Regions from separate parts of the Homo sapiens genome. Here region 2 is linked to region 1. Evidence: fine-mapped expression QTL. A gene starts in region 1. The other region holds a variant in brackets. All regions are shown on one strand. Distances are between the middles of the regions.

Evidence for each region. PIP is the estimated chance that this variant, and not a neighbour inherited with it, causes the effect.
Region 2: its variant is fine-mapped to the expression of GEM in whole blood (TOPMed, PIP above 0.99).

What each region holds. Positions count from the first base shown.
Region 1 is chr8:94,260,771-94,263,687 of GRCh38, forward strand. GEM (GTP binding protein overexpressed in skeletal muscle) reads right to left here and starts at 1,549. Exons shown (of 5, transcript NM_005261.4): 1 at 1,320-1,549. RefSeq lists a silencer at 791-860.
Region 2 is chr8:94,219,416-94,222,332 of GRCh38, forward strand. No RefSeq gene overlaps it. Among named protein-coding and RNA genes, the nearest start is that of CDH17, 12 kb to the left of the region's middle. The variant G/C (reference allele first, on the strand shown) is at 1,308.

The DNA.
Region 1 (2,917 bases):
ATCACCCACTGCCCATGGGCTTCCCCCTTCCTCAAAGCAGACTTGGATGAAAGAAGAGCTGCACTCAGAGCTGGCACAAAGGCAGCTGGAAAGAACCAGCAGACTCCAAAGATGGCTTGAAAAGCAACAAGTTAATGTTGCTGGGGACCAGCTGGTCAGGTTAGCTGCTCTTGTCTAAACTTGGCTCTTAATTGCACCAGTGTCCAGCAGGTTTTGTGCCTCAGTGGGAAACACGTGGCAATGACATCACCCTCCCCTCCCCTGCCCACTGCAACCCTGGCTGGACTGGACAGGCACTTATTGGAACTTCCATGTTTAGTAAAGTTGCCTTGATGCTCTCCAGCTGCCTGGAGAGCATCCACCTGCCATTATTGGGGGTAGGGGGGAAATTTTCTGTTTAAAGTTTATGCCTCAGCTGTGCCCTCTTACCCACAGATACCACTTTTAAAACATCCCGGCTCCAAACCTAGACACCCTGGCAGAGAAATGACCTGCTCATGTTCAGACCTATGAAATTTGCAGAGAAAGTGCCTCATTCTTAAAAAACCACATCCATTCTCAAGAGTTCTTTAATTCAACTCAGATTCCTTTTTTGAGTCAGGGTCTTGCTCTGTCACCCAGGCTGGAGTGCAGTGGCACGATCATAGCTCACTGTAGCTAGCCTCCAACTGCCAGGCTCAAGAGATCCTCCACTTCAGCCTCCCAAGTAGCTGGGACTACAGACCTGCACTACCACGTCCACTAGTTTTTTTATTTTTATTTTTATTTTTTGGTAGAGACAGTGGCCTCACTATGTTGCCCAGGCTGGTCTCGAACTCCTGGGGTCAAGTGATCCTCCTGCCTCGGCTTCCGAAAGTGCTGAGATCACAGGCCTGAGCCACCATTCTCAGATCCCCTTCTTGAAGCAAATCAGAAGGCTGAAGACTCCCCTAAATGATATTCAACAACTTCTCTACAACTTTCCCTTTGCAGACTGCCTCCCCTAGCCGGGAGGTCTGTTTTTCCGGCTACTGGTGATAAAGTATAAGTACTTACGTTGCAATCAGCAAGATGCACAAACACTCCTCTCCCACCCTCACCCCCACACTCCGTACCCCAACATCTCGCCACTAACCAGGACGACCAGCCGGTTTTTTAGTCTCAAAAGCAGCACCTCAGTTGGCAGACTTACATTCAAACAACAAATACATAAAGCATCATTAAGGGCTGCCCTCTCTGACCACTCGATCTGTAGAGGGAGGTGACCCTTCTACCGAATTGAACTAAGGAACCTGCTGATGAGAAGCGACATCCTTTGCACTTGAAGCTCTGACCCCTACCAGAAAATCCCAGTGCTGAGCGCACGTTCCAGGGGTTCTTTTCTCAACTTCGAAAGTTCTGCGGGCTGGGAAACTCCCACTCTCTCCCTTCTCCGTCTCGGGCCGTCCCCCTTACTTGGCTCGGCCGGATCGGCGTCGGGGCGTCAGCGTATCGCGTGGGTCCGCGCTGGGATACCCGGGCCAACGAGCGGGGAGTGCTGCGCTGTGCCCGCCGTCCTTGCCCGCCGCCTGCAGCCGCCGCGGCCGGGCGGTTTATAACCAGCCCAGCCGACCCGCCGCGGGGCTTTTCCGTGACGTCAGCGCCCCCGCCGGGAGGGGGCGGCTCTGCAGCAAACTCGGAGTTGCAGCCACTTGGCTAAATCAGTTACTCGCAGTCATGTGACCCCTTCTCTCTCCATTTAAAAAATAATGACAGTTCAATCCTGGGCCTCCTTTATTTTGTTTTATTTTCTTTTTACCAGATGAACACAGGAAAATGGAAAAATACACTAAGTGACACTTAATCGTCCTTCCCAGCAAAGCACTTGCGAGCTGTCGGGATAAAGGATGGAAGGGAGAGGCAGGTTTGAGTTGAGAACTCAGTTTTGCCAAGAAAACAGAGATCAACCTGGAATGCGCAGAGACTTTAGCCTCCAGGATGAGACTGCAGCCACCTTGAATAGCCAAGGCTTGTTTTAACCACATCTTCTGCAACGAAGACAGCCTTGTCACCTTCTTCTGGATAGGGGGAAGCAGATGGAGCCCCACAAGGCTTTGTTTCCCTTCTCTGGCAAGGACCCAGAGAGAAGGGGCCAGAAAGAGGTGAGGAAAGAGGACAAGACCTTGAAAAGGGCAGTTTGGAAAAACAATTTAATTGAGGATCCAAGCAGATTGTGCTAAATATTGCTGGCCCTCCTGCTCTGGGCCAGAATGCTGAGGCTCCTCAATCAGGGAATTTAATCAGCATCCCAATCAGCAGCATCTCTGTACCAGGCTCCCTGGCAAGGCTACGCCTTGGGCATGAGCCAATACAGCCTGGCCATGGGGAGGAGCACTGAGACCAACACCCCTGTAAGAGACTCCTGTGAACAAAGGGCACAGGATAATAACTACTACTACCATTTATTAAGTACCTCTGAGGACCTCTGCTTAGTAGGTACTGTTAGGCCTCCTGGGACCTTAATCCTTACTATACTTCTGCAAGGTGGCTCTATTTCTACCCTCATTGTATGGAGGAGGAAGATAACATAGGGCCAGAGAATTTGCCCAAGGTCACACCGCTGGTATAAGTGGCAGGGTCAGGACTCAAAGCCTGGTTTTCCTGAGTCTCTGCACTGCACCACCAAGTGAAGGATTTCAATGACCTCTTTCTGGGGACATGGGTATTTCCCAGATGCTGTGTTTAGAGATGATGCTGGCCTCTCCAACATATCTGCTTTTCCAGCCAGCTTCAACTCTGGGTTGGCTGGTGGCTCCGGGAAGCAGCCAAAGGCACCAGCATCTATTGAAGCAGCTGGACTCTGCTGTGATTAGAGTCAATTCACAGTTATCCTGCAGGCATTTATCTGCTTTGAGAATTAGCTACATGACCAGCTGCTGAGACCTGCCAGGTCCCAAGC
Region 2 (2,917 bases), 41 kb before region 1:
AGAACCCTTCGCAGCGGGAAACTTGCACACTTATAGCCGAATTGCATAGAGTCTATCTAAAGTTAGTTTAAAGACTCACAGGTTACTTTGCCACCAGAAATGTTCATGTATTGGATTTAGGGGTGGGCTCAATTTTCACTTAACTATTTAATTAAACAGTTACTTTGTGACCTCTAGTTAGCTGACGTCTGTTCTGTGCCAGGCACTGGGCAAAGTGTTTGGCTTATGTTATCTCTAATGTGCACAAATCTGAAAGGCAAGTCAAATCGCCAATCCCCATTTACAGTTGAGGAATCTGAGGCTCAGGGAAGTCAAATATCTTGCTCAAGTTCACATAGCTGGCAGGTGACAAAGCCAGGATTTGAATCAGGCATGCTGACTCACAACCGTTGCCACTGTGAAGGCTGTTCCTAATCTATGCGATGTCCTAGTCACCACCTCTACCCCGACACCGTGGCCATGCCCTTCTCTCATCACTTGCCCTTGTGGTGGCTTTACTGCTACCAACCAGAAGAGGCCTTCGTAGGTAACTGACTCTGTTTTACAACAGTCTAAAAAAGAATTGGAAGAATTTATGCCAAAACTAAAATCGTTGCTTGGGGCAAACTCTAATATTCAAGTAGGCAATGTTAAACCAGCCCTATTAACTCTTATGCTCTTATCCCTCTGCGGCATATTTACATAAATTCCCCCAGACGGCACTGTCTAAATACATTGGTCTCCATTTCAGACGCTGCCTGGAGTCACTAAGTTTCTCCTAAGATTGGGGAAGGCAACTGGTGATCACTTTCCTTAGCTTTTCCAGGCTTCAATCATGTTTGCCATGGGCTGTGGATCATGAGGAAAAGTTTCTCTTCTAGAAATCCTCCAGCTAATAAACGAAGAGAGGGCAATAAAATTAAAATATTATCATTTCACAAACCTCTATGGAAGTAAGTCTAGGCAAGGGTCATCCATGGCTGCTACCTCACAGAAAGAGAGACAGCTGGTCATTGTGTGCCTCCTCCTAGATATGAAATGCTACTTAGGAAGGATTCTTGCCGAAAGCATTGTATCTGGATCAAATCAAACCAATTCTAGATTCACCTAACAATTGTGAAATTGCCAGAATCAAAATGGAGTTGGCACTGTTAAAAATCAAAACAAACCCTGACAAATAGGCCTGTGGAAGACCATGAAGACAGGTTCTCATGCTTGTATGCCTAATAACAAAACTATCACAAAAGCCTCAAAAACCACAATCTTGCACAATGGCCACTGCAACCTTACACAAAAAATACTTCTACAAGGATATCTGCCCAGCAACT[G/C]CCTGTTCAACTGCATTGGGATCACCCTTGTTATTAATCTTTATGGTCAAGTATAATCATTTCCAAATAATTATGTAATCCTCCTCATTTTTTCCTTTAAAAACCTTTGTCTTTCTTTACCTCCCTGAATCCATGCATAGTTTACTATGGCAGGCATATTCCCATTGCAATGATCTATACCCAAATAAATATTTTATTTTAGAAAGCATTTCTCTGTCATTCAGGTTGACAATATAAGAGGAAATCTCTTTGCAGTGATTGTGTAGAAGATATGGAGACATTCTCTGTATTGGCATTTTTCTATGTCCGCCCTTGATGAAAGCAAAGGACGGAACATTAAAGGGCAACTGAGTAAAGACTTTCCATAGCAGTGTTAGTTAATGAGATCCATCCAGGATATAGCTTTCCGGTAATCAATTTGATTCCAGAATAGCATAAGAGACCTAGAAGAGTACACAGTCAGATACCAAAATTTACCTAGAAAAATCTTAGACTGTTGTCCAAGCGTGGTGGCTCATGCCTGTAATGCCAGCAATTTGGGAGGCTGAGGCAGGCAGATGATGAAGTCAAGAGATTGAGACCATCCTGGCCAACATGGTGAAACCTCGTCTCTACTAATAATATAAAAAATTAGCTGGCCGTGGTGGTGCACGCCTATAGTCCCAGCTACTTGGGAGGCTGAGGCAGGAGGATCGCTTGAACCCGGGAGGCAGAGGTTGCAGTGAGCTGAGATTGTGCCACTGCACTCCAGCCTGACCACAGAGCGAGACTTTGTCTCAAAAAACAAAAACAAAAACAAAAAGAAATCTTACACTGTTTTCAGAAATCACACTTTTAGCAATGATATCAATATTAATTATTCTAAAATATATATAGTAAGGCAAGTAAGTAATTATGTTAATATTGTCTGCAACCAAGATTTTAGGTAGAAGAGAGAAGATAGATAAATATAAAATCAAAGGAGCTAAATTTTAAAAAACGCTGTGATACTAAATTCAAGTTCAAAATATTAGTATGAACTCACGATGCATTTTCTTTAAAGTAGTGTTTTCAATTCTGTCCACTGAAAAAAGCTGGGAACAATGACCAATTCTTAAGCAATGGGCAGCCCTAAAGCCAGCTTATAATTTTTTTTTTTTTTTTTTTTGAGACAGAGTTTCACTCTTGTTGCCCAGGCTGGGGGGTGCAGTGGCACAATCTCAGCTCACCACAACCTCCGCCTCCCAGGTTCAAGTGATTCTCCTGCCTCAGCCTCCCAAGTAGCTGGGATTACAGACATGTGCCACCACACCCAGCTAATTTTTGTATTTTTAGTAAAGACGGGGTTTCACCATGTTGGTCAGGCTAGTCTCAAACTCCTGACCTAGTGATCCGCCTGCCTTAGCCTCCCAAAATGCTGGGCCTGGCCCTATAATTTTGAAAAATCATTGGAAAATGATATTTAAAGGAATCAAGCCTCCTTGGAGAAATTGCTGACCATAGTTCTGGGGCAGGAAAAGTACATGTGCCTAGCACATTTGACATACCAGACACCAAGGAATTTACTAAAAACTGTGATTGTTTCGAAGCATTTAGAAGCCAAAATTAAGTGGCTATCACTTGGAAAGTAT